4 linked regions of the Homo sapiens genome follow. The protein of the gene in region 3 interacts with the protein of the main gene of each other region in a pairwise test. Each region holds a gene or a part of one and is shown on either strand. Other genes may lie near its edges. The genes, in order: IL16, PRDM6, KCTD9 and CDPF1.

What was found.
Region 1: the proteins of KCTD9 (region 3) and IL16 interact in binary tests that used the Homo sapiens proteins (3 or more experiments, as listed by UniProt).
Region 2: the proteins of KCTD9 (region 3) and PRDM6 interact in binary tests that used the Homo sapiens proteins (3 or more experiments, as listed by UniProt).
Region 4: the proteins of KCTD9 (region 3) and CDPF1 interact in binary tests that used the Homo sapiens proteins (3 or more experiments, as listed by UniProt).

Annotation. Positions count from the first base shown.
Region 1 is NC_000015.10:81,192,146-81,199,890, reverse strand, and holds the start of IL16 (pro-interleukin-16), read right to left. Parts: upstream 3,013-7,745; 5' UTR 2,739-3,012; intron 416-2,738; exon of another isoform or gene 81-415; coding exon of another isoform or gene 29-80; intron 1-28. UniProt on the Homo sapiens protein: Interleukin-16 stimulates a migratory response in CD4+ lymphocytes, monocytes, and eosinophils. Primes CD4+ T-cells for IL-2 and IL-15 responsiveness. Also induces T-lymphocyte expression of interleukin 2 receptor. Ligand for CD4.
Region 2 is NC_000005.10:123,084,603-123,092,240, reverse strand, and holds the start of PRDM6 (putative histone-lysine N-methyltransferase PRDM6), read right to left. Parts: upstream 3,001-7,638; 5' UTR 2,722-3,000; intron 2,242-2,721; 5' UTR 2,227-2,241; coding exon 1,635-2,226; intron 1-1,634. UniProt on the Homo sapiens protein: Putative histone methyltransferase that acts as a transcriptional repressor of smooth muscle gene expression.
Region 3 is NC_000008.11:25,448,434-25,455,464, forward strand, and holds part of KCTD9 (BTB/POZ domain-containing protein KCTD9), read right to left. Parts: intron 5,143-7,031; exon of another isoform or gene 5,111-5,142; intron 2,049-5,110; exon of another isoform or gene 1,947-2,048; intron 1,238-1,946; exon of another isoform or gene 1,090-1,237; intron 1-1,089. UniProt on the Homo sapiens protein: Substrate-specific adapter of a BCR (BTB-CUL3-RBX1) E3 ubiquitin-protein ligase complex, which mediates the ubiquitination of target proteins, leading to their degradation by the proteasome.
Region 4 is NC_000022.11:46,243,488-46,247,299, reverse strand, and holds the end of CDPF1 (cysteine-rich DPF motif domain-containing protein 1), read left to right. Parts: intron 1-78; coding exon 79-190; coding exon of another isoform or gene 191-194; intron 195-504; coding exon of another isoform or gene 505-623; exon of another isoform or gene 624-627; intron 628-2,061; coding exon 2,062-2,208; coding exon of another isoform or gene 2,209-2,486; 3' UTR 2,487-3,287; downstream 3,288-3,812.

The sequences.
Region 1 (7,745 bases), on a different chromosome or scaffold from region 3:
CAGCCCTACTCAAGAGGTCTGTGCTTACTCAGATTCGGGAGCTGGGATGAGTTCTGAAATTCCTCGTTGGAATCTTTCATATGCCGATGCCAGACTGCAGAAAGGGCTTAGATTTCCTGTGGCTTTTCTTTGCCAGGTGAGAGGTGCAGTGAGCAGCAGGGAAGGTGCACCATTCCCCAGCATCCAAGTTCTCAGGGGAGCCTTGAACCTTTGGAAGGGATGTTTGTAGGTGACCGCCTCCTATTGGCTGAGCAAGGTAGCCATGTCTTAGCTGCTGTAACTGTCCACTGGAGGAGCATTTCCATCCCAGCTGCACATGCCAAGACTCAGCCAGGGGCAAGACCGATGGAGATCTCCACGCGGGATCCCAGCATCGGGTCACTGTCCAGCATTACCAGTTGCTCCCACTCAAAGCAAACCTCTCCTCCAGCATCTCCAGATGTGGCAAGAACAGCGCCTCCCTCCTGATGGGCTCCGCCCTTCCACCCAACGTCCTTCACATCCACCTGAGACATCCACTGAGACTTCTCAGTGTTTCTGGCACACACTGAGCAACACTGTCTAGTTTACAAGACTGACATAGATTCGTCCTTATTTCAACAGGAATTCAAAAGAAGAACTTGAAGTAAATTCCTGATTTCAAGCTGCCTTCCTAGTTAACCACAACTCCAAGTTCTTGGAACTATTTGTTTATTTTGCCCCATGCCTATTTTCTCCCCGTGTTTATGAGCATATTGCTATTCACAATGAATTGCTTTTTAATAGCAAAACGTAACCTATATATGAAAATGTATTACCAATTCAAATGCACAATAAAAAATATGTATTTTATATATATATATATATATATATATATATATTTTTTTTTTTTGAGATGGAGTCTCCCTCTGTCACCCAGGCTGGAGTGCAGTGGCATGATCTCGGCTCACTGCAGTCTCCGCCTCCCGGGTTCAAGCAATTCTCCTGCCTCAGCCTCTTGAGTAGCTGGGATTACAGGCATGTGCCTCCACGCCTGGCTAATTTTTGTATTTTTAGTAGAAACAGGGTTTCACCATGTTGGCCAGCCTGGTCAGGAACTCCTGACCTCAAGTGATCCGCCCGCCTCGGCCTCTCAAATTGCTGGGATTACAGGCGTGAGCCACTGTACCTGGCCAGTAGATTTCAATTCAAAGTGTACCTCCCTCCCTCTCACTCCTATACCCCTGGGCCACTGCTGGGAACCAGAAAGGGGGAGGGGTTGACAAAAGGGCAGGTCTCAAGGTCCTGGTCTGCCTCTGCCAAAATAATTCTGCCTTAACTGATTATACATGAGTTTTCATGATAGATTTTAATTCTAAAAAGGTTTCCATGAATACAAACAATTAGAAAATAATAATTCTATAGTCAATTGCATCCAACAGAGATTATTTTTTAACCCTATGGATATATGACCATCTTTGTGTTGAGGAAACTCAAGTATTTATTGAGGCATGCCACAAAGCCAGTGAGAGCATGGATTTTGGAGTCAAGCTGGGTTTGGGTCCTGGGAACGTCTAGCTGAGTGGTCCTGTGCAAGCCTCCTCACCTCTCGGTTTGGGGATATACTCCCTAAGCTCCAGGTTGTTGTAAGGTTTAAATTAAATGAGGTATGTGAATATTTTAGCTTGGTGCCTGGGGCTTGAAGAGTGGCCAGGAAATGGTTGGGGTACTAAGTTTTATTTAAAAGACTCACTGGGGATTGAATAAATGAGCAGTAGAGGCTTCAAGGGTCTGACCCACCTGACGGCTCATGCCCACGTCATATCTGCAGCAGGGGAGGTGCCTTCTACTGTGCTCGTAAATGTTGACCATCACTTAACTTCAGGGTAAAGAAGGAGAACAGAGGAGGAAAAAGGCTGAACGGTCTTCTCCTTCCGGGGGAAACTGGAGAAATAGGAAGGGGAGCCACAGAGACGGCAGCTCCCAGGCTGCTTCCAGGAACCCAGTGGGAGCTTGAACTGGCCTCCTGGGACAAAGGGGTCGTCTTTGTATGGCTCAGCCTGAAGTGGGAGGATTTCACCTGATAAGGGCAGGAGGAGAAGATGCTTCCCTGTATTCCACAGGGAACCTCTATTCTTATGCTGTTACCTCATTCTCCAGCTACAGAAAGCAAACTTGCTATGGACCAAAAAAGAAAAAAACAAACAAACAAAAAACAAAAACAAAAAAACACCAATCCTGGGACCTACCAATGCAGGAATTAGTCACGGGACCCTTATCAAAAAGCAAGCAGAGTGAACACTTTTCCCATGGTCAATCTGCAGAGATGCCCACCCGCTGTGCCCACTTTGGAGAAAAGGAGTCTGGCCAGGCAGCAGAGAAGCCCCCATCAGGTGCCCCGTGGCCTTTCTCTCTCCTGCTGCCTTCCTTTCCTCCACCTCCTTCCACACCCCATTGCCAAGGATGAGACGAGGCTGAAAAGTCAGAAATCTCAGGACCAAATTCTCCCCGTGCTGCAGAGCCAGGTCAAGCGATATCCCTCTGCCCGCTCTGGCCTTCTGAAGCTGCTTCCTCCTGTACCTAACTGTGACATGGTGACACAGAGATTCCTACCAACACAATCCTGGCTTCTGCTCCTGCCCCTGACCCCAGCACCACTTCCAAATATGAAGTTACGTCCTAGCAACCAAGACCCTCCCCATTCAGGTCAGAGAGGCCAGCTTCCTCCCTCCGGTAACGGCCACCTGGACAGAGCAGCTGCCTGACAGACATTCACTCACCTGGTGCCCACCTACCTCCCTATGCACAGTCCCCCGGGGCTGCCATCTCCCTTGCTCCTCTCTCCATCTGCCCAGCAGGGATTGCAGCACCACTTATTCCCGGACAGCCTGTGGCCCAGGCCTGGGTCAGAGCCGGCAAGGATTGAGAAATGGACGCTCAGTTCTCAGACGGAGGCCGGCCTTTGAGTCAGATCCCAGGCTCCGATAGTTGAGATGCCGTGAGTAGGACACAATATTCACCACCTGCTCTGGACAGGTGACTCAGGACAAATGTGTCCCACCTGGCATGGATTTGCTCGAAGACTCCTGATCTGAGCCATCTGACTGCTCCACGTGAAAAGGCTTGATCCAAAAAGGGGGGCTGCCAGTGCTGAGAAGCTCAGCCTCAGAACAAGGTCCACCATCTGCTGGGCTGGCCGGCAACACCCAGGAGGCAAACCCAGTGCAGAGCCACAGAACCACAGTGAGGTTCCTTGGTCCAGCCCAGTTGCCCCTGCCTTCTTTGGACAACACAGAAATGACTAGGAGAGCCGAAAGGTAGCAGACATGACTCGGTGCCTGCAATGTGCCTGGCACGCTGCTAGGAGCTTTCTATAAACCTCATCACATGCTGGAAGCTGTGGCACGTGCCTATAATCCCAGCTACTCAGGAGGCTGAGGCAGAAGGATCACTTGAGCCGGGGGATTCAAGACAAGCCCGGGCAAACCATAGCAAGAACTCCTCTCAAATTATATAAAAATTTAATAAAAAGAGGAAAAAAGTCATCACATACAATCCTGCCATCAATCTGGTAAATATATCACCTGCTTTGCAGACAAAGAAAGCCACTGCACAAACGTTCATTAAACACCTACTACGTGCCGTGGAATTTCCCCAAGGTCACACAGTTAGCAAGTTAGCAAGTCAAAATCCACCTGTCTCCAAAGCCCAGGCTTTTTCCATAGCATTTCATTTCTTGTCTGTGCCACCCTTTCCCAAAAACAACAGACTGGCTCTCAGAAGCTTATGTAACTCAGTGGTCCTCAAGCCAGCTGCATCAGCAGCATCTGCTAGAAATGCAAGTTCTCAGGCCCTGGCCTAGACCTCCTGAAGCAGCACCTCTGGCACTCTGTTTTCACAAAGCCTCCAGGTGATTTTGGTGCGTGCTCAGGTGCGAGAGCCCATGACCTAACGTATACAGAGCATGTTGAAAACTGCAGCATAAAAGAATGGGGCACTTTTGTGTGTGTCCTGTTGGCATTAGTGTCATGAGACCAGAGTGCCTTTCCCCCACGTAGCCCCTTGGAGAATCTAATCATAAGGTGGCATTTAATCCATCTGCCCCGCAAAGAGCATCCCACACATCTCTCCTAAGCTCAGTCTCTGTGAGCCCTGTGTACATGCTAGGCTGAGGTTTTTGTATGGACCTCTCTTCTAAAGAATGGAATGTTTCCCAACGCTCAGCACCAAATGTTTCAGGGCTTCCTGGGGGCTTTAATGAGGGTGTAGGTGCAACCTGTAGGAAGCCCTTGAAATTCCATGCAAGGCTGCAAAGATCTAGCCGCTGCTGCTGGAGAACACAGGCCCACGGTCCCAAGGGAAGCACGGGAGGAGGGAGCACTCTGGGGATAAAGCTGCCTTTGTCAGCAGGCACAGGGGACATTGTAGGGCTGAGTCTGGAGTGAGTCTGGAGTGCAGTGAAGGAATTTCTAAATTGCAGAGAGTGAGCGCCTCTGTCAGTGTCGCCTGCTCAGCTCACACCCACAATCTCTCTCACAATGGCCTGGGTGCGGTGGGGCCAGGACAGACTCAGGCCCCACTTCCATCTTGCTCTGGCAGAGAGGCTGAGGAGCAATTCAGCACCCCAGGGCTATGGGGGCTGGCCTTGCCCTTCTTGGATCCTGAGGCCTGGGAGGGCCCCACAGCCCCCCTCCTCCACTAAGTCTAAGCTCTCTCTTGTCATCGGCACCTGAATCCAGTTCCCGCCTCTCCCTCTATTTTCCGAAGATCTGTTCTTTCTCACTCTCAGAAGGTAAATTTATTCCAAAGTGTAGTTGAGACTTGGCCCTGATTTTTCCTAATACGGGGTGGTTTGTGCTTCAAGGTGGAAATTTTATCACCCCTCTGCCCTTCAGGACATCCTGCAGAAAGAGTCTCCACCCTGCCCAACACTCCATAGTCCAGCTCACTGCAAGCCAGAAGAGACGGGGAGGAAGACGCAGGTGAGAGAGCCCCGCCCTGGTTAGAACTAGGAAGTTCAAGCACCACTTGAAGCTCAACCAAGAGCTTCCTGTGTGATCTTGGTCATTCACAGCCTTAGTTTGCTACGATGAAAATTAGATGAAATTAATTGTCTGCCAGATGAAATTAGAAACTTCTACTGCACAGTGTTACTGAGAGAATGAGGCAATAGAGGAGGAAGCATGCTGCCAACAGCTAACCAAGCAGAAGCCTGCTCACCTTTTTGGCCCTTCCAGCCCACGGAACTGAGAAATCTGTTCAACAAGTGATTCTGATGCTTGCTAAAGTTTCATAATCAATAACCTGTATTTCCTTCTAATTCTCCTATTTTTTAATTACAAAATTTTATTTCCAAAAGTAAATTTTTAATTACAAAAATTTTAATTACAAAATTAAAATTATAAATTTTGAAAAATTAATTTAAAAAATTTTAATTTTAAAAATTCTAATTTAATTTTTAAAAATTAAAATTACAATTACAAATTTAAATTTAATTTAAAAAATTAAAATTACAAAAATTTTTAATTTCAAAATTTTAGTTATAAAAGTAATACATGTTTGTTGTGGCAAGTAAACATATTCAGAAGGCAAAAAGAAAGTGTGTCCTTAAAATGACACAACAGGGTCATCTCCTATTCTGTTCAAACAATGGCAAAATAAAGAGCTTAGGGTCAGAGCAATAAGCCCCAGCTTCTGTACTAAGCGGCTCTGTCAACTGCAAGTCCTTTTACCTTACTGAGTCTCAGTTTCCATGTCCACAAAATGGAAACAATAACCCAATAATCTGACAGGGCTGCTCAGAGGTCTGAGCAAAGAGCTGTCCTGCAATCTATAAAATGCCTTGGGAATTCTTTATGCTGTACACTTTTGGTCATGCGAACTGTATTATCATGAGCAGAATATAATTTAACAATTTTAACTAGTAATGTAACAATTTTAACTAGTAATGTAACATGACGCAGAATATAATTTAACAATTTTAACTAGTAATGTAACAATTTTAACTAGTAATGTAATGTTACTAGTAATGTAACCTGACAGTAATGGACATGATGATAATAAATTCTCTCTGCATTTAGCACTTTCAACTTAGACAGAATGTTGAGGCCAAAACTTGATGATTTTATTGTACGTCCCCACTTACGGATGCAAACACTGAGACTCAGAGAAGTTACATGTCCAAAAAGTGCACGTCCAAGGCTGTGCAGTCAGAAGCCATTGGTCCCTTGATTCCCGCTCCCCGGCTCTCTTCCCCTCTTTCCCTGGCCCACAGCAACATATAGATTCAAACCAAGGGTTTTAACTTCATACGAAAATTCTAGCTGACTTCCATGTAGACCATGCTGCCCTCTCTCTGGCCTTTTTTTCTTTCAAACTGTCCATCAGGCTTGCATCCTTTCAAAGTAATATTCCATCACTAAGATACTTACAATCACGACAAGCAACTGAAGCCAGTCCACAAGCAAATATACCACGCACATGCCAACAACTCCCAAATTCACTTCTCCAGGCCTGGACTTCTCCTTGAATTCTGACTCTTTTTTCCTACCACTTGCTTAACATCTTCAGCTGGGGTTTAACTTAAATTTCAAAAGTAACATTGCCTGGCTGTTATTCAGTGAGGCAAAAAAAAGGAACACTGCCAACAGTACTCTTGATTCCCCCCCTAATAAAATGTTTCTTCCCTAAACTTCCACATTTTGGTAATTGTCACTAGCATCCATCAATTTCCCAAGCCAAAATCCTCAGTATCAAGGTGGGAAGAACATAGCACAGGCTCTGAAGCCAAAATTCCTGGGTTCATCTCGCAGGTCTGTCCCTGCCCAAGTGCATGATCATAGGCAGGCAAAAAGGCACTTCTCTGTGGACTGGTTTTGTCATCTATAGGCTGGCTAGTGCACTAACATCCACCTCACAAGGTTTGTTTGGGCTAAATATGGTAATACTTGTAAGGTTCTTAGAACAGTGCCTGCCAGAATAAGCCCTCTGTGAGTTTTTATTCATCTTGATCCCTCCATCTCTCTAACCTTCCACATCACATCCAATTTATCAGTGATTCTCGTTGGCTCTATCCCCAGAAGCTATCCCACTTTCTTTCCGCTTCTCTCCATCTTCACTGCCGCCACCCTCCTCTTACCAGTGCCTCTTGTCTGATTATAGCTTTCACCTTCTAACTGGGATTCTGGTTCCTATGCAGACCTTCATAATCCATTTTTCACATAATAGCAGGTAGGCTTTTTGAAAATATAAATTGGATCAGCATAAAATTTGCAAGGGCTTTGAATTACTTTTAAAAACTGTTTTTTGTTTGTTTGTTTGTTTTTGAGACAGCATCTTGCTCTGTGGCCCAGGCTGCAGGGTAGTGGTATGATCATAGCTAACTGCAGCCTTAAACTCCTGGCTCAAGCAATCCTCCAGCCTCAGCCTCCCGAGTAGCTAGGACAACAAGCACATGCCACCACATTTGGCTATTTTTTCTTTTTTCTTTTTTTTTGTAGAGACACGGTCTCTCTGTGTTGCCCAGGCTGGTCTTGAACTCCTGGCCTCAAGCAGTCCTCCTTCCTTGGCCTCCCAAAGTGCTGGGATTATAGGCATGAGCCACTGCACCCAACCACTTTTTTAAAAATTTAATAAACTTTATTGTTCTGAGCAGTTTTAGCTTTACAGAAATATTGCATAGAAAGTACAGAACTCCCGAATACTGATCTCCCTCTCCACACACACAATTTCCCATACTATTAACATCTTGCATTGGCGTGGTACCTTTTTACAATTGATAAATCAAT
Region 2 (7,638 bases), on a different chromosome or scaffold from region 3:
TTCAAAAACACACATTCAAGAAATTCAGTAGGAGATAAGTATTTTTTGAAATCTGTTGGGAGAGTATAATGTTGTAAAACTTTCTGAAACTCTGAAATACAAGTCTTCTCAACTGCACAGCAAAATTAGAGTTGAAACCACTATTTTAAGCCAGTGCTTTACTCTCAAACTTCATAAAGAAAAAAGTAAATACGATTGCTCTTTCTGTTGGTAATTATTATCTCCATCACAGCTATGTCCAACATAATGAAAATATTCATAGACCTCAACCACGAGGCAGTTGCCCAGTGTTTTTTTTTTCATCAAATCAACGACTTAGGGAATCCTTTAAAGAGCTATAACTGAACTTATTTTGCTTTTACAACGAATTAAGAAGTTCACAGAGCGGTAGACATTTTGCAAGAAGCAACTTATTCAAAATTGAATAAAAATAAATGTTTTAAATTAACTTTACTCATACAGAAGCCAGACGAAGGAATGAGATGAAGAAAATAGCTGAATGAATGCTGATCTTTCAAATCCTGTATTGCTTTCAATCTGACGCTCTTAACACACTTTAATGTTATCTCCAGAAGTCTCTGGGAGCACGTTTAACACTCCCAACACAGTATAGGTGTAAACACAGTATAACTTCTGAAATTATCAAAAAGAAGCAGGTATAAAGCAGTACATATTGCTTGATCTTCATTTAGAGTTTTGCTTCAAAACCGCCAAATGGAACTGTACTTGTGATAAGCGTTTCAAATTGTGAATATAGAAACCGAAGCTACAGGAATTCTGATGTTTAGTTAGGCATTTGCTATTAACTTGGAGGAAGAGGGGAGTAAGCGTCTTTTACTAAATTACAGTCACCCTAATTTCTAAAAATAAATACATAAACCAACATGGGTTATGAATGTTTGCGGGGTCAAAGGTGCGCGGATAAAGCGGGATCAGCGGAATCGGAGGAGAACAGAAATTTTCTTCTCAGTAAGTAGCAGTCATTTTTTTTTCTTTTCCTTCTTTTTAAATGAATAGTAGATCTAAGAATACTGCCTGCCTTCAAGGAGAAACGGACTCAGTTTCATCTAAAATTCCTACTCCAGTGAGGCCTGGCCAGCGAACAGCTCCCGCCGGTTCCCCCACAACCCCGCGGCCCGAAAATGACCCCTCCAGAGGTGGGGTGGAGAGTAGCAAAAACAAGCCCTGGTCTGCGTGCTCCCCAGAGACGCTGAGGGTCCCTCCCTCGTCCCGGCTAAGGCCAGGCAGGGCCTGACCCAGACACCCCCTGTCACACGCTGCCAGTACCCGCCTGGCCCCGGGCACTGTCCGGCGGGAGGGCAGAGGTCTGTTAGGCCGGGTCCACGGTAGACTCCGGCCCCAAACACTTGGGACTGTGAAGCAGGTGAGGAGAGGGAGGGAGAGGGAACCCCAAAGTGCCACCGGCCGTCCCATCCGTTCTCTTTCCTTCTCCAACGCCAGAAAACTTTTGTCACAGAGATCGGGGAGGCGCGGGCCAGCGGCCAGGACCAGGTGCTCCCCACCCACCCGGCCCCGTGTCACTCCTATCCGACCCGCCTCCCTGACAGGCACCCGCGCCCGCCGGCGCCGGCGCCGGCGCCCCGGGAGAGAGCGCGCGGGCTGCGGCTACGTACGGTTGTTGGGGTCGCTGGTGTGCTGGTTGAGCGGGATGATCTCCATGCGCTGCTGGCCATACAGGTAATAGTCCAGCTCCTCTGCGCTGCAGCGGAAGCGCGGGGCGCCGCGACCCTCCCCGCCGCCGCCGCCACCACCACCGCACTTGACGGGCCCGGGGCCGGAGGTGGCGCCGAGGCACAGTTCCTTGGGGGGCAGCGGCTCGGCGGCGACGGCAGCGGCGGCTAGAGGCGCGAACACCGGCAGCTGCGACACCGGCAGGGCCGAGAGACCAGCCAGCGCGGCGGCAGCGGCCGCAGCAGCGCAGGAGGAGGCGGAGGAGGCGGAGGTGGAAGAGGAAGCCGGCGTGGACGAGGCGGAGGAGAGAGAGGCGGGCCGCGGGCGCAGGCTGTCCGGCGGAGGCTCAGCGCGCTCCGGGGGCGGGGGCGGCGGCGGCGGCTGAAGAGGCTGCGGCGCGCTCAGGAGACCCGCGGCGCCGCTGCCCTTGAGCGGGCCTGCGCCTCCGTGAGGGAAGAGTTGCTGCCAGTGCTGCAGGTAGGCTGGGTCCACTTTGAGGAAGGCCGAACCGCCGGGGTCTCCGGGCTTCAGCATGTCCGGCGCCTCGAACTGGGGGCAGAGGGCAGGGAAGAGGGGGCGCGTGAGCTGGGCGAAAGGGGCCGGGAAGAGGGCCACTGGGACCCTGGAGAAAGTGCCCGAGCCGGTGGTTCAGCCGGCGGCCGCCCGGTTCCGCGGCTCCCTCTTCCCAACTCCGCTTGGGCGCAAAGTTTACTCCGAAGCTGCGGCGCCGCACAGAGGGAGCTGTGTGCACCCTGCTCTGCCTCCCCGATCGCAGCGTCCAGCTCCCATCCAGCAATGCTGGGGCCCGACAGGAGGGCGCTGCCCCGTAGAACTCGGCTGCAGGACGCAGCCCCCGCCCTCAGCCAGCGCCCGGAGCCGACCCGAGCCGGCGTGGCGCAGCGCCCGAGCCGCGTTGGCCTCAGGCGCCAGGAGGCAGAACAGTCTCGCCGCCCGCCCCCAACCTAGGACCACCAACCTTCCTATCTACCAAGCCCTAGACTCTTAAGTCCCAGACCAGCCTCACCTTACCTGAAAACTCGGTGCTGCCGGTGGGTGCGTGCGGGTGTCTCGGTGAGCGTGCGGGTGCGCGAGAGTGTGCGCCCTGCGTGCGCTACATGCCCCTGAGCAGCGCGGGAGGAGAGTCCTAGAGATTGTGCCGCCCGGAAACCTCCCGACCTGCAAGCGAGAAAATTGGGAGGCCCGCGGAGGGCGCGAGAGTGCGGACGGACCTGGGCGCCCGACTCAACCGCCGTGGGCTGCTGCGCTTGGCCGCTGCCGCGTCCTGGCTCCTTGGTTCCACGCTCTGGCAGCTTCCCGGCTGGACACGTGGGTTTTACGACAGCACAAAATAGAGTGAGTGTGTGTGTGTGTGTGTGTGTGTGTGTGTGTGTGTGTGTGTGTGTGTGTGTGTGTGTGTGTGTGAGAGAGAGAGAGAGAGAGAGAGAGAGAGAGAGAGAGAGAGAGAGAGAGAACGGAGGGGGGAGGGGAGGCAGGCCAGAAGAAGGGGAGGGGAGAGGGAAGAAGGAAGTTCTAATTCGGCCCGACCCACATCGCCAGAGCGCCTTTCCCGCACAAACTCCTCCGCCCTCCCATCCCCTGTTTTTTTGGCGTGACGTCTGCCGCTAGCCTGTTGTCTCTTTCTGCCCATGATATGTCTTTTCTGGGTCCCAGCTCAGTGCCCTGATCTTGAAAGCAGTGGAAATGCGGCAACGGGAATGCATCTCCGCACACGCTGTGGTGTCCGCGCTGGAGCAAGCCCGCGCCGCCAGGACCGGGTTTGCGCTTTTGCCCGGCTCAGTTTTTCCTGAAGTGCTTCTGGGTGCCAGAGTCCACTCGCCCGCCACGCAACCTCTAACATAAATCCTCCGGGGAGAAAAGTTGGGGGCGGAGCGGGACGGGTTGCGCGCTGCAGTGAAACCCTCTGTCTGCAGCCCAGGAGGGAGGCTTGTCGGTGCAGGGAGGCGTAGGACCGAGGGTCCTGAGACCGAGAGCAGCTGGTCCTGGAGGGACTCAAGCTTGGCCGTGGGGCTGGGAGGCGGCTGCAATGGAGTCTGCACTCCACCCAGCGCTCTGCTGACCCCTTCTCGGGTTGTCTTCTGGAGGGCTCTTTCCCTCTCCTTCTTGGGGCCCGGAGACAAGTATCCAGTGTTACGTCTGGTGGCACAACTGCTCCGGGACACGGGCGAGGCTGTTTGCGGTCAGCTGCCTGCGGCTGCCGCAGGAGGTCACGCATAGGTTTCTCTACCCAAAACCTGGTGTTAGAGGGGCAGGGTGGGAGTGCAGCCCCACCTCCACCATGTCCTCTCCCCAGACTTTGTGCCAGGGCAGCCCTTCGATGCAGTCTCGCACCCACGAAGGAGGCACTTGCCCCCCAGCTCTTCCTGGCATTTTCGGTAGTAGATGGTAGAGGGCACAGGCAGGGTGTGTGAAATTGACCGACTCAGGAGGTACTTTCCCATCGCCGGGGTTCTGGCCATACCGTAAAGAGAAGAAACGGCATTTATCTTTTTCCAAACAACCTAACTTATTTAGCACTTGCCAATCTGAGCAATTAATAGCCATTCTTTCCTGATTTCTGCTTGTTTCTTTTTCTCTTCCCACCACTCAAGTTTTCTGAACCTGGGAAACGTGCTGTTCAGACTTCATCCGGGTCTCATTCAGGATGCTTCGATGTTGGTTGGAAGAGAGTTAGACCGAAAATGTTTTGACTGGCGTCGTTATGACAAGGTCATCCGTCATTGTTGGATAGATTGATAGCACCCAAGTTTAAGGCAGACACCACGAGGGAAAGCCCACGGCGCTGTGGTCCCGGAGGCTAACCAGGCAGTGTCCGCAGACCTCCAGCAACTCCATCGGGAGGAGAGGATGAAGTTCCAGGCCCGTTTCAATTAATCTGCTCGCAGAACTGCCGAAGAGTGGCTTGTCGGGCCACGGGAGAAGAAACAAATGCTCTTTCTCACACTCTCCTGGTTCATTGCTGAGAAACCAGGACACTCCTCTGTTCCCTGGGAGAGACAGTGAACTCCAGGGATGGAAGTCCGGACTCCGGCGGCGGTCCCGTCATTTGCCTTCTTGTTTCTGCCCAAACCCAGCTAGTTCCAAGCGCTTGGTCCCCAAGACTGGAAGTCCCCAAGAACCTACCTCTACCTGTCCCAACCCTGCCTCCCCCCTACCCTTTCACCCCCTGCCACCATTAGAAAGTCTCTGGATTTTGAAATGCTAGTTGCAGCAGCTGCTTCCGTGGCCTCATGCCGCCCACACTCTGGGAAGCGGAGGAGGGAGGGTTCCTCTCGTAATAAGATTAGCTGACCTGTTAATGAGAGTTTTGGACGTGCCGGGCGGGGGTAGGCGCTTTATGTCCATTTAATCCACCTACATGCGGAGAAGGCATTATCATTAACCCCCATATTGTAGATGGGGACCGCTGAGGTTCGGAAAGTTTAGATGGGTTGCCTAAGGTCACGCCATTAATGAGTAATGGAGACGGATTCAAATACCGTTCGGTAAGGTGCCAAGTGCATCTTCTGCCTACCCTAGTCCAACCTGTAGCCACTCGGTCCAGACTGACGCCAGAGGGGCTATCATGGGAGAGATTTGGTTCCCCTCGCTGCGGGGTCCAGGGAAGAAGCTGAGAAGGTAGCAAAGTCCCCCTCGCCCACTACGTCTACAGGTGGCGTACCTGGGTAATCCGATTCAAGCTTCCGCCACACCCACCCCGGGCACAAGTCGATCCCGAGGCTTACGGGACCCTAAGGCCCAGAGGCTACAGGAACCTCCCGTGAAGGGGGCAGGAGAAAGTTTGAGGGAGAGCCCTGAAGGTCCGGGAGCGAACGAAAAAGTCTGGAAGGGAATAGACCAGGAGTCAGGACCTCCCCTGCACCTCCCCAGCAGGCCCACTGCGCCGAGCGGGGCCCCTGCCTCCACCGCGGCTTCCGGGATGCCCGCAGAGCTCGGCATCCTCACCCGGTGCGCACAAGGGCGCGCAGCGGCGTAAGCTGGACCCCCGACGCTGCGCGCGCTCTGAGGGGCGCTTCCCCCTCACACAGTTGACCCTGGGCCCGCTTGGTCACGGCCACCCTGGCGCATCTCAATAGTTTTTAGAAAGTGAGCCCACCGACGGCAAGGACATGCACCCCCTCAAATCCGCTTCCCCCACCCCCTTCAATACTGAGAAGACCACGGAAACAAATCACTTCGACCACTTAGAAAGCGATCAAACCTTTATAAAAATCCATCGCTCCCAAATCGATGGGTGAATATTTGCTGGGAATTTGTTCCAGAGGAATAAATGAGGAGCCTTGAGTGTATTAAATGCAAACGGGGGGACACGGTGGTGTTTTTCTTCATTGATTAATGACCTCTAAAATAAAACAAGTGGGAAGAGGAGCCAGGATCGATAAATTACCCAAATTCATCATTTTCTCGAGCATTTTCGCCCCGAAAATTATCCTTGGGAAGCCCATTGTACCCTGAGCTGGGAGGGGAAGGATGTAGCTGGAGGCCAGGGTAGGGAGGGAGCAGCAGAAGGGGTAGGAGGAGAGAAGGGGGTTCTGTCCAGGAGACCCTCTATCTGATTCCGTTTAACATACAATTCAAAAGTTTGCCTTTCATATTATTTTTTCTTGATGGGGGAGTGGAACAAATGGTCGGTTGCCTTTGACAGGACTCCAATAAAGGATTCAGCAGCTCTCCGCTCTGCCCTGGGTGCTCCTGCTTCTAGTAGGTTTAAGGTCACGGGTGGCTGAGTTAATAATTCATTAATATAGACATTTATTCAGAAGGGTTCGCTGAGATCCACTCTTCCTGCCTCCTCCCAGAGATTTGTTTTCCTAGGAAATGGATGGGGGTGGGGGGTGGGCTGCAGGTGAAAGGAGGGGGGCGGGAGGAGAAGGAAAGGCTGGATGTAGCTAGGAGGAATCTTTGCTGAGCCGTATTAGCAGACAGGTCCCTTGAGCCTGCCAGCAAAAACTTGGTTGAAAATGTGGTATCTAAACAGCACAGAGACTCTGGCCTGCGGTGGCCCTTTTTCCTTCCATACCTGTTCATTCGCTTGTTTAGAAAGCTCCTTTCCTCCATGGTTTGGGACCAGGGAGGAGCCTTCTCACTGAGGATCTTGGATTGCAGGCAAAAGGGAAAGCTGTGAGAAAAAAACAGGACCCCACCCCCATCCCTATGAGGTTCCCAAGGGAGGAGCTTTGAAACTTGCCCAGACTTGGAATCTAAGGGAACCTCCTCTCCTGAGGGCACAGGCAACTTTTGGAGGACACTCCACCCCTCAGAAATGGGATCATGGAGAAGGGGGTTGGAGGCGGAGACTGAAAGTAAATAGTAAGTAATAAATCAGTAATGGTTAGATGGGAATAAGTGCTATGGAAAGCAATAAAGGATAGAGGGAAAGGGAGTGCATGTAGGTGGAAGGAGTTACTGTTTTACATATAGTGGCCAGGGAAAGCTTCTGTTAGAAAGTGAAATTTAAATAGAGACTTGAAGCAAGAAGATGCCAGTTTTCTGTCCAGAGCGGGATATTCCCTGCCCTAACCTATAGCCAGTGGCTAAAGCAGTAAAAGGGGCCTCTCCTGAAGAACTGTCAAGGATTTGCCTCCTCGCTACTGGCCACACTTGCTTCCCTTAAGCTGCTGTGTACTACTCGATATTCTTTCAGTACCTCCATTGACTGTTCTCATCAATTGGAGTCGCCTAACTTGCTGGTAACTTAGACCCTGACACGGTGACCGACCTCCAACTATCTGGACCTCAATTTCTTCAACAGTCCAAAGAAGAGGCAGGACAAATGCAGTGTTCTGTCCTAAGCTTTTATGAAGCAGCTACCGAATTCTGACCTCCCCACCCTATTACATATTTTATACCCTACTCCTGCATGCTGTGAGTCTAAGATGAGCAGGGTGTAAAATGTATTGCCCAACTAAAAACTAGAAAACCCTCACC
Region 3 (7,031 bases):
ACCAAGTACTGGAAATAAACCGTGGTGATGGTTACACACATTGTGAATGTAAACAATGTCAATGAATTACACATTTAAAAAATGGTTAAAATAATAAATTTTGTTCCATCTTTTATCACAATAAAAAAAATACTGCAAAGCACTTGGCACAGTGTCCTACACACAGCAGGCTTGCCATAAATAATTAAAGCCTGAGTAGGGCTGGGCGCGGTGGCTCACGCCTGTAAAATCTGCACTATGGGAGGCTGAGGCGGATGGATTGCTTAAGCTCAGGAGTTCGAGACCAGCTTGGGCAACACAGTGAAACCCCATCTCTACTAAAATACAAAAAATTAGCCGGGCGTGGTGGCGTGTGCCTGTAGTCCCAGCTACTTGGGAGGCTGAGGCAGGAGAATTGCTTCAACCCGGGAGGCAGAGGTTGCAGTTAGCTGAGATCACACCACCACACTCCAGCCTGGGCGACAAAGTGAGACTCCTTCTCCAAGAAAAAAAAAAAGAAAAAAAAGCCTGACTAAAACATGTCCCCCATATTTCCTATGATTGTTCACCTCTGCAACACAGTGAGGTATTCTGTAATTGCATTATACACATTCCTGGGACAAAGCGAAGCGAAATACAGTACCTAGGGCATTGCACACGGCAAAGCTGGGGTTGTGTTAAGGCAAAGAGCATGAAGAGAGTAAAGACAGAGAAGAGAGAAGCAAACATGCAAAGGAGCAAGAGATTGACCAAAGCAGATGCAAAACAACTCCTGCAGTCAGAAGGTGCTGTGAAAAGAGGGTAAGAAGCACAAGCACCTCTTTCCCAATTCAATGTTCTTGGCATAGTTGCCATCATACAAAGAATTTTCTAAATCTTTCTTTTCCCTCTTATTTACCTCTGGCTCTTACATCTCAGTATGGCTTTCTTTTGCCTGATATCCCCTCCTTGCCCTAACATCAACTTTCTCTCTCAGCATCTCTTTCACTGTTCTCTCTTGGCCATACCAAAAAATAGATGCAAGTTGAATGCACCTGCCTGTATTATGCTTAATACTTAATGTAATATTATAGCTTAAGATCTTATATGACTTATTCAAAATACACTAACTTGAATTGTCGTCTACTTCCATATGATTGACTTGGTTTTTCTGTGGGTCTATTGTCTTCCGATGAAAATAAAGGCCACCTGCCATGTTTTAAAGCTGTGCTGTCCAGTGTGGAAGCCACTAGCTTCATGAGTCTATTTAAATTTTAATCTATTAAAATTAAAAGTTAAAATGCAGTTCAGTCACACTAGCCACATTTCAAGTGCTCAACTGCCACACTGGCTAATTGTTACCATATTGAATAGCACAAATTTCCATCATCTCAGTAGTTCTATTAGACAGTGCCATTTTAAAGAGCAGAAAAAAAAAAATGAAGAAAAAAAAACACAACTATTTTAATTCTATTAGGCTTTCCCATGACATAGGAACCCAAAGTAACAAACTGATGAAATACAACTCAAGACCTGTTTGTTGTTTTATTTAGAGGGTTGGGATGTTGCCATCTTCTGTTTCTTCCCCACTGAAGTCAAATGTGACCAGATGATAGAAAAAAACCACACATACTGCTTGGCAAGGACTATTTTCAAGGCAATCAAAGTACAACAGGTATTTCCTTGTAGGCTGTAAAACTACTAAGGAGCACAGTCTAGGTATAAATTGAATTCAACTTTTATTGCCACTTAAATCAATCCTAATAAGGTATCAAAAACAATTTACCGTATCACTAAATATTTTCTAATCTGGCTGTCTGCCTGGATCCTAAAGGTCCAATAAAAAAAATTAATTTGCAAAAAGTTGTTATGAATTCTGTGAATAGAGGTGACCAATTATCCCTTGGTAAAGCTGATAAGCAGCACTAAAGAAGTACATTCCTGAGCTGTTCTACTAATAACCGCCATAGGTTCAAATGGTACATTACCTGGCTTACAGCAGGTCTTTGACAAATATTTCTTGAATGTTGAGTGTTGAAGTAGGACACACCTTTTTTGTGTGACAGTCATATTCATTTAAGTCTCTTACACTGTCATTAGGGTAAAAAAATACACAGTATAAATGCAATTCTAAAGCAGTCTGGGCATGGTGGCTCAAGCCTGTAATGCCGGCACTTTTTGGGAGGCCAAGGTGGGTGGATCACCTGAGGTCAGGAGTTCAAGACCAGCCTGGCCAACATGGTAAAACCGTGCCACCACGCCCAGCTAATTTTTGTATTTTTAGTAGAGACGGGGTTTCACCATGTTGGCCAGGAGGGTGTCAATCTCTTGACCTCGTGATCCAACCGCCTCAGCCTCCCAAGTGCTGGGATTACAGGCATGAGCCACCACACCCTGCTAAGTTTTTTGCTTTATTTTGTTTGTTTTCCAAATTTGTTACAATGAACCTATATTACTTTTGTAATAAGGGGGGAAGTTTTAATTTATTTTAAGGTCTCCATAGCTCCAGATACTAGTTCTATAAATAAAATTATTTTAGCAGTTTGCAATCAGGCAGTTAACAATTTCCTTTAAGTGAAATAACCAAAGGGTGGTCAATTAGAGAAAACAGAATTAAAATTAATACGAAGAATCTTATAGTTCTAGAAATTTGAAAATTTCCCTTAAGTTGGGCCAATATACTTGTTTTCACTTGGAGGGCTATTCTTGACGTTTGTTTTCCAACTAATCATTCGCACATACTAACAATACCATACAAATAAAAAGGAGTTATGTTGCAATACTAATATTCAAATATGCAAAAACTCTGTATTTTAAACTAATTAGAAACCAGGTTTTAAAATATATATATCAACATAAATTTGTCATACATATGGAAAAGATGATTAAGTTACGGAGAAAGTTGCAAACAGACTGGCACATGCATTCTTCTTTATATAACTCTTTTGAGAAAGAGGAGCAATAAAAATCTTGTATATCATGGACATAAGCTCCAGTTAGTATATACTAAGATTGTTTTTGTCCTCATACTGAGCCAAATAAATCATAAAATGATAGTGCTTACAAAGGTCATTTACTTTGTATGTGTTATCTCCACCATGTGGCCTGATGTTTCCATGTCACTGGGATTATCTACCTTAACAACTTAGGCCCTAAGAATAGAAGCATTTTACATTTATTGAGAAGCATGTCTATTAAAGTTCATGATGTCTGTATTATACTACTTTTCAGAGTCAATTATTTTTAAATTTCAGATCCCATGACAAGTGAAAGCTGCCTATGAGTTGGAGAGTAAATGGAACACCATGCCTAGTACGATTGGCTAGTTTTAATTTACCTTTAAACACCATTTTCAAATTGTAACCTGTATTATTTAAATTTAAAAATTAAAACCTGCACATGCATGTAAAATATTTTTTTCTTTTATACCCACAAGATTTATTACATAATACACAATAAATACACAAGTATTTGTGTATTTGAATTCAACTTTTATTGCCACTTTAATCAATCCTAATAAAGTATCAAAAACAATTTACCATATCACTAAATATTTTCTAATCTGGCTGTCTGCCTGGATCCTAAAGGTCCAATAAAAAAATTAATTTGCAAAAAGTTGTTATGATAAATACACAAGTATTTATTGTGCATTATGTAATATACAATACACATAAATTGTTGAATTTATGCAGGCTGATTTACCCAACAAAACCACTAATCACCACTAGTAACTAAATACAGAACTCAATTTTCTCTACCTATACTTTTAGTCAAATACATTTTAAATATTTACATGATCTTATTCTTTAAAAGATGAGATAATTTAAAAAAAAGATGAGATAATTAACTCTAAGGTGAAAAAAGAAAATTTTAAAATGGAAAATACTGGTAATATCAAGTGTTGGAGTGGATGTGGACCAATAGGGAAGATTTATGCAATGGTGGTGGGAATATAAATTACTGCAATGACTTTGAAAAACAATCTGGCATTATTTTGCAAAACTGAATATTTACATATTCTAACACCCAATAATTACAACTATGTGTCTATACCTTAGAGTGGTGGTTCTCAAATGTGTGATCCTGTCACCTGCAGCATCTGAACCACATTTCACCTGCAAATTAAAAATGTACATTCCTACCCCACCCCAGACCTACTGAATATTAATCTTTGGGGATGAAGTCCAGCAGTTTTCTCAAGTCCTCCTCCTCCTCCAAGTGACTCTGATGCATGCTAAAGTTTGATTAACTACCTCCCTAGAAAAATGCTTGCTGCTGTGTGCCAGGATACATATACAGAAATATTCATGACAGCACTGTCAATTTAACAACAAAATATAAAGAAAATAAACAACCTAATGTCCACTGACAGGAATATCATGGTAGTATTTGTATAACATGTACTTTAATAAAGCAGTAAAAATGAATAAATTATCACTATGTCAGATATTATGGTTGGAAGAGAATTATATTGAACGAAAAAAGCAAGGACTGGCCTGGCATGATGGCTCATGCCTGTAGTCGCAGCACCTTGGGAGACTGAGGAAGGAGGACTGCTTGAGGCCAGGAGTTTGAGACCAGTCTGGGCAATATAGGAAGACATTGTCTCCACAAAAAACTATATACAGTATAATATCAATTTGAGATACCGTATGTCCCGAAGCTGATTTTTTAAAAATGTAACTTAGTGGCTAGGCAGAGTGGCTCACGCCTGTAATCCCAGTACTTTGGGCGGCTGAGGCGGGCAGATCAGGAGGTCAGCCGAGACCAGCCTGACCAACATGGTGAAACCCCATCTCTACTAAAAATACAAAAATTAGCTGGGAGTGGTGGCACGTGCCTGTAATTCCAGCTACTCAGGAGGCTGAGGCAGGAGAATCGCTTGAACCCAGGAGGCAGAGGTTGCAGTGAGCCAAGATCGCGCCACTGCACTCTAGCCTGGGTGACAGTGCGAGACTCTGTCTCAAAAAAAAAAAGGTGAGGGCCGGGCACGGTGGCTCAAGCCTGTAATTCCAGCACTTTGGGAGGCTGAGGCTGGCGGATCACGAAGTCAGGAGTTTGAGACCAGCCTGGCCAATATGGTGAAACCCTGTCTCTACTAAAAACACAAAAATAGCCAGGTATGGTGGCGGGCGCCTGTAATCCCACCTACTTGGGAGGCTGAGGCAGGAGAATTGCTTGAACCCGGGAGGCGGAGGTTGTATTGAGCCAGAGATCATGCCACTGCACTCCAACCTGGGCGACAGAGTGAGACTCCGACTCAAAAAAAAAAAAAAAAGGTAATTTAGTTATGCATATATATGTGACAAAACTATTTAAAAACACACGGCAAAGAGAAAAACAAAACAGGAGTACAGGAACGTGGATAAACACATTATGTTATTGATAACATGCTACTTCTTGGGTTATCTGGCAGATTTACAGATGTTTGCTATATTATGTTCCTCTTTTTATGTATATTCTTTATTGTATTCTTTTCTATGTATCAAATATATTAAGAAATGTTCAAGCTTAAAAAGTGGGCCCTCACTAGGTTCTTATTAATGTTTAGCCTTCAGAGGCAGAGGTTCAGATAAATTTTCACCTTTCTCCAACTCTAACAACGTAATGGATTCAAACCTGGATACTTACTACTAACAACATATTTCTTTTTCATTCTTTGTTGTTGTTGTTGTTTTAGAGATGGGATCTCACTATGTTGCCCAGGCTGGTCTTGAACTCCTGAACTCAAGCAATCCTCCCATCTCAGCCTCTCAAAGTGCTGGGATTACAGGCATGAGCCATTGTGCCTGCCCCCAACATGTTTCTGACCTAATACCAAAACCTGAAGAAAAGTTATTTCTTGGACCAAGAATGAAAACACGGTACAGAATGAAAGTATTTCCTACCCTGTTTGCCATGTTTGGCATGATGCCACATACTCAGAAGGCATTTACTAAGTGTTCACTGAATGAATGAATGAATGAATGATGAATTAATCAGTATACAAAAGGCCTAGGACTTGCACAGCTCATTATTGAATATTCTGAAGTAAAAAAAGCACTCTGTGTTCAAGACGTATAGAAACTCTGCACTGACATTAAGTTGCTCAGAAGCCACACACTGCATGCAGATGTGCAAGTCCCCATTTCAATTTCCTTAATGCCAACTCTTACAGGGAATATTAAAAAGAATAACGAAAATGTTGAGGCACATGGAAAAAGGATGACAGGTACAAACAACATAACTGACTCTTTCGGAGCAGTTTTAAAAAACAAAAACAAAAAAAACCCTCAAAATTTAAACCAAAGATTCCAGTGATTAGAACTAAGGCCTTCAAATGTTTCTGACCACACACCCCATTGGTAACATACTTTTGGGCATGTACTCAAACATCTGTATATTTATGTATTTATGAACTACATTCCACTGTTAGAAAGTACATGTTTTCCCAAATGATGAGGACTTTCAGTGACTCAGACTATGAATTAGCCACTAAGAATCTCCTAAATATTTATCATTAAATTTAGTGAAATTCTGCCAAATACAGGATTGACTTTAAACATTAAAATAAGCCGGGCATGGTGGCTCACGCCTGTAATCCTAGCACTTTGGGAAGCCAAGGCAGGTGGATCACATGAGGTCAAGAGTTCAGGATCAGCCTGGCCAACATGGTGAAAACCGTCTCTACTAAAAATACAAAAATTAGCAGGGCATGGTGGCAAGCCCCTGTAATCCCAGCTAAGCAAGAGGCTGAGTTAGGAGAATCGCTTGAACCTGGGGGGCAGAGGTTGCAGTGAGCTGAGATCACGCCACTTCACTCCAGCCTGGGTGGAAGAGCAAAACTCCGTCTCAAAAAATAATAATAATAAATAATAAATAAATAAATAAAAGTAAAAAACAAACAAAAACCAAAAAATCAGAAAAGAAAAAAATCTGAAGCCATTTGTCTTCATGCACTAGAACTTATTTCTAAATATCTTGCTAACTAGGATGACTCATCCTATCAATGGCTAATATTTCAAAGAATAACATACACTTAGGGAGAGGCTGATTATTAATAGCAATTAATAAATAGGACTTCAAATATTCTT
Region 4 (3,812 bases), on a different chromosome or scaffold from region 3:
TGCCTGGCCATAGGTCATGGCTGATTTTCCGACGGCAGAGATTTGGGCTGTTCTGACGCTGCATTCACTCTCCTGCAGCCTCCTGGAGGAAAGCTATGTCATGAAGGATCCCTTCACCTCCGACAAGGACAGATTCCTGGTCCTCGGCTCGTGCTGCAGTTTGTGCAGCAGGCTGGTGTGTGTGGGCCCGGTGGGTAAGCAGCGTGGGCTGGGGCCACCTGTCCTTGCTGTGGTTATCCTGGAGCTCTCCCTGGGTAGGGAGGGCTGGGAGAGAGGGAGCAGCGGGTTCACCCCATTATAGATGGGGCCCCTCAGCTGATGAAGGGGAGAGGTGAGAGGGCAAGCTAGGGTCAGTTAGAGGGTCTCAGCCTGGTGTAGGAATGGAAATAGGTAATTGGTGGCTCTGCACCCACCCCAGTGGCCCCTCAGGGTTCCTCCCCTTCCCACCAACAGTGCAGACAGTCCTTGTGCGCCCTCTCACCAGGATGGTGACTTACTTTCTAGATGTTCTTGGAGGGATCTCCAGGAGAAGGGACTGTCCTTTCATGAGCACTTGTTGTGTGCCAGGTCCTGTGCTTGGGACCTGTTTTACTGCTGAGGCTTCATTCAGTCCTGCCCCTTAGTCAGGTAAAGCAGTATTATATTCCACCCATTTTATAGATGAGGGAACTGAGCTTCAGAGAGGCTGGGTGGGCCAGGTTCACCTGGGTAGCTGTAAACCCAAGGACGGATGGAAGTGGAGCAGCATGGCTTTCACAGCGTGCCCAGTGTACTCAGAGTGACCCCAGAGTCTGAGAAGTCCCTGAGCATCTGCCACAGGTTGACACACACAAAGGGGAGCTGTATCAATAGCCAGGGGGACGAGATGGGCCAGGGTGGGAGGAGCCTCCGCAGTGTGGCATGGGAGTATCTGAGGCTCATGGAGGAGCTGGTGGTCCAGGAGAAGCTGGGAAAGGAAGACTGCAAAGGTGGGTGGGCCAGGTGGGGAGGTGGAGGTCTTGAATGCAACACCTTGGCCTTGGGCTGCTCTTCGTGAGCAGCGGGGTGGCGGGGGTGGGGGGCGCACGCAGGTACCACAAGTCTGCAGCTTTCTTTGTTTAAACAGTAGGTTGTTAGTGAGCGGATCTCCATGGCGAAGGGTCTTTTCTAAGAACTGCAGGAGGGCAGCCTTATGTTTGCGAGCACACTAAGCTTTAAGAACAGACAGACACCAAAAATAAGAGTGGCCTAAGTAAAGCAAATAGTTATTTACTTACTTTCTCCTATGTAAGAGTCCAGAACTGGTGGCCTTGGCTGGAAGGGCACCCCTGTTGTCTTCAGCAGAGTCTCTATTTGGGTCCCTTGTGGCTGTGGAGCTCCCACCATCATATTTGCATCCCAGGCAGCGGGAAGGGACGTGAGAGCACAGTCCATGCCTTCAAAGGGCATGACCAGGAGGTGGCACACACAGTTGCTGACGCCCCTAACCAGCCTGAGTCACATGGCGATGCCCAGTTACAGAGGGGGCTGGGGAATGTCATCCTTAGCCACGTGCTGTGCACCGTGATGAATCTCGGGAGTTCTAGTGTGTAAGAGAGAGGAGAGCGGACATGGCTGCACGGTTCTGGCCTCCTGCCCAGACTAGCTGGCTCGTCCATGGCGTCTTTGGTCTGTGGGGCTGTCCTTCCTGTCCCCTGCCGCTCCCAGCACCAGGTGGCCACTGTTCGTGCTGCGATAGCTGGGACGGGAGGACTCTGGGATTTTCGGGGCATGGCCTGTGCTCCAGCTTTCCATTGTTGTCACTGCCCCGTGATGGAGCAGAGCAGGCCCCAGAGTCTTTCTGTCCCATCCCAGCTGTTCCCACCCAGGGTAGCCCAGGCCTGCATTGCTTTTCTCCTGGACACCCTGCCAGGCCCTCAGGCCTGGCTCTCCCTCTTGCTGGTCTAGCTCTGGCCACCTGCCCACACTGTGCATGCTGGGGCCCCAGCCCAGCCCCCCAAGTGTGGGAAGGGCTGGCCCCTGGGAGGAGCTGCACCATGTTCCCAGGATACTCAAGCCTCCATCCTTGTCCACTTCTTTAAGGAATGCAGTTTATTCTACTCCAAGAGATTCTGCCTCCCTTGTGTCCGGGAGAACATCAATGCTTTTCCTCAGGAAATTCGGCAAGACTTGGAGAAAAGGAAAGCTCCATCAAAGAGGACCCCCAGCCAGCCCGGTTCTCGGACGTGAGTGCAACTGGGGCTAGGTCATCGGGCGGCACCCTGCACAGAGCTCCTGGGCCAGCCTGCGCCAGGGATGCTGCTGAGCTGGGAGCCGCCATGCCTGGCCTTGTTTCTGGACCACTGGGAGCAGCACTGCAGCCCAGGGGAGCTGGAGTCCAGCTTGGAGCAGCCACAGGCCCAGGGAGCTGTAGCAAGAGGGTAGTCCAAAGGCAGATGCCAGACAAGACACAGCCAGGAACCCGGCCAGGTCCCCCCACATGCCCCTCAGGGCCCAGGCCTGAGTGAGTGCTGCTCAGATGTGACTGAGAGGGATGACCTCCTTCAGCAGGGCAGCTCCTAAGAGGCTGCGTGCAGGTGCGTGTGGGGGGAGATGCCACACTGTGTCGGGGCCATGGTGCACTGTAGGTGGCTGCAATGGTCTCTCTGTAAGGAAAATCACTGACAGCAGCTCCTTCTGGACCCAGTCTGGAAGGTCTAGAGGGGGATAGAATTTTTATTTCATATCCTTATGTGGTGCTTGGAAAATGTTTTTAACCTTGACCATGTATTATGTTTATAATTAAAAACCCAAAGAACCAGCTCATGTTTGGAAAAGGAATCTTCCACTGAAACATTTGGATACCCGACGTTCTCCCTGGACACTTGGCCCGGCAATAGTTGGGGTCTCCTGGGAAGCTGAGTGCTGGCTTCTAGCCTCTCCAGTTCCCTCAGACTCTGTCTTCAGCTCGGGCCCCTCCGTTCTGTCTCCCTCGACTCCAAGTCAGGAATACCGTGGGCTTCCTGCCCTCACCCCACACCTCAAGACCATCCCACTGCTTGCCTGCTTGCCCCCTGCCATCTCGCACTCAGCCCTGGGTGCCTGTGAAGCCTGGCCCCACTGCCTGCCGGGGGTTCCTGCAGCACCCCCCTACTCCAGGCTCCCCATCTCCCTGAAGCTTCCAGGGTAGCAGCTGGTGGGACACTGATCTGTGAGCTCTGGAATGTCTGCTTAGAATTCTGAGAGGCAGGAACTGCTCTGTCTTTGTAACTACTCAAGGCCAACTGTCACATGAAGGAATGAATAAAGAGTTTTTACTGACTTGTGCACTGATGGACTTTAAGATGCTCACTGCTTTAAAAGTTCCCGTTGTATGTGACTTCAGACGAAAGGATGTCGTATTCCGGAGCCAGATTGTCCTTGATCCATTCTGTATGTTGAAGGACACAAAAGGGACTGTGCAGGTGGAGACAGCCTCCATGAGGGGCGCAGGGACTGTTCTGGCGGAGGGCGGACCCCACAGCTGGGGACTTGGTTCTTTTAGACCAAACAGTCCATCTCGCAGCATCACTCAAAACTCACCAAAAAATTTTAAAAAATAGTTTATTTTTTAAAACCATTAAGGCAAAACTGTACCCTGAAATTAACTCTGTACATTCATCAGTCTTACAGTAGGACATCCCAAACACAGAAGTTCCCATATATTCAGGATATAAATCAATACATGTGGTCAGTTCAGTCTCCTAATAGGAAAACGAAGACCCAAGATTTTTTTTTAAAATTAAGGTTATTTTATAGCCATTTTCTAATTGCCTGGAACCAATCAGTTCATGTGACTAGAAAAATTACTTTCG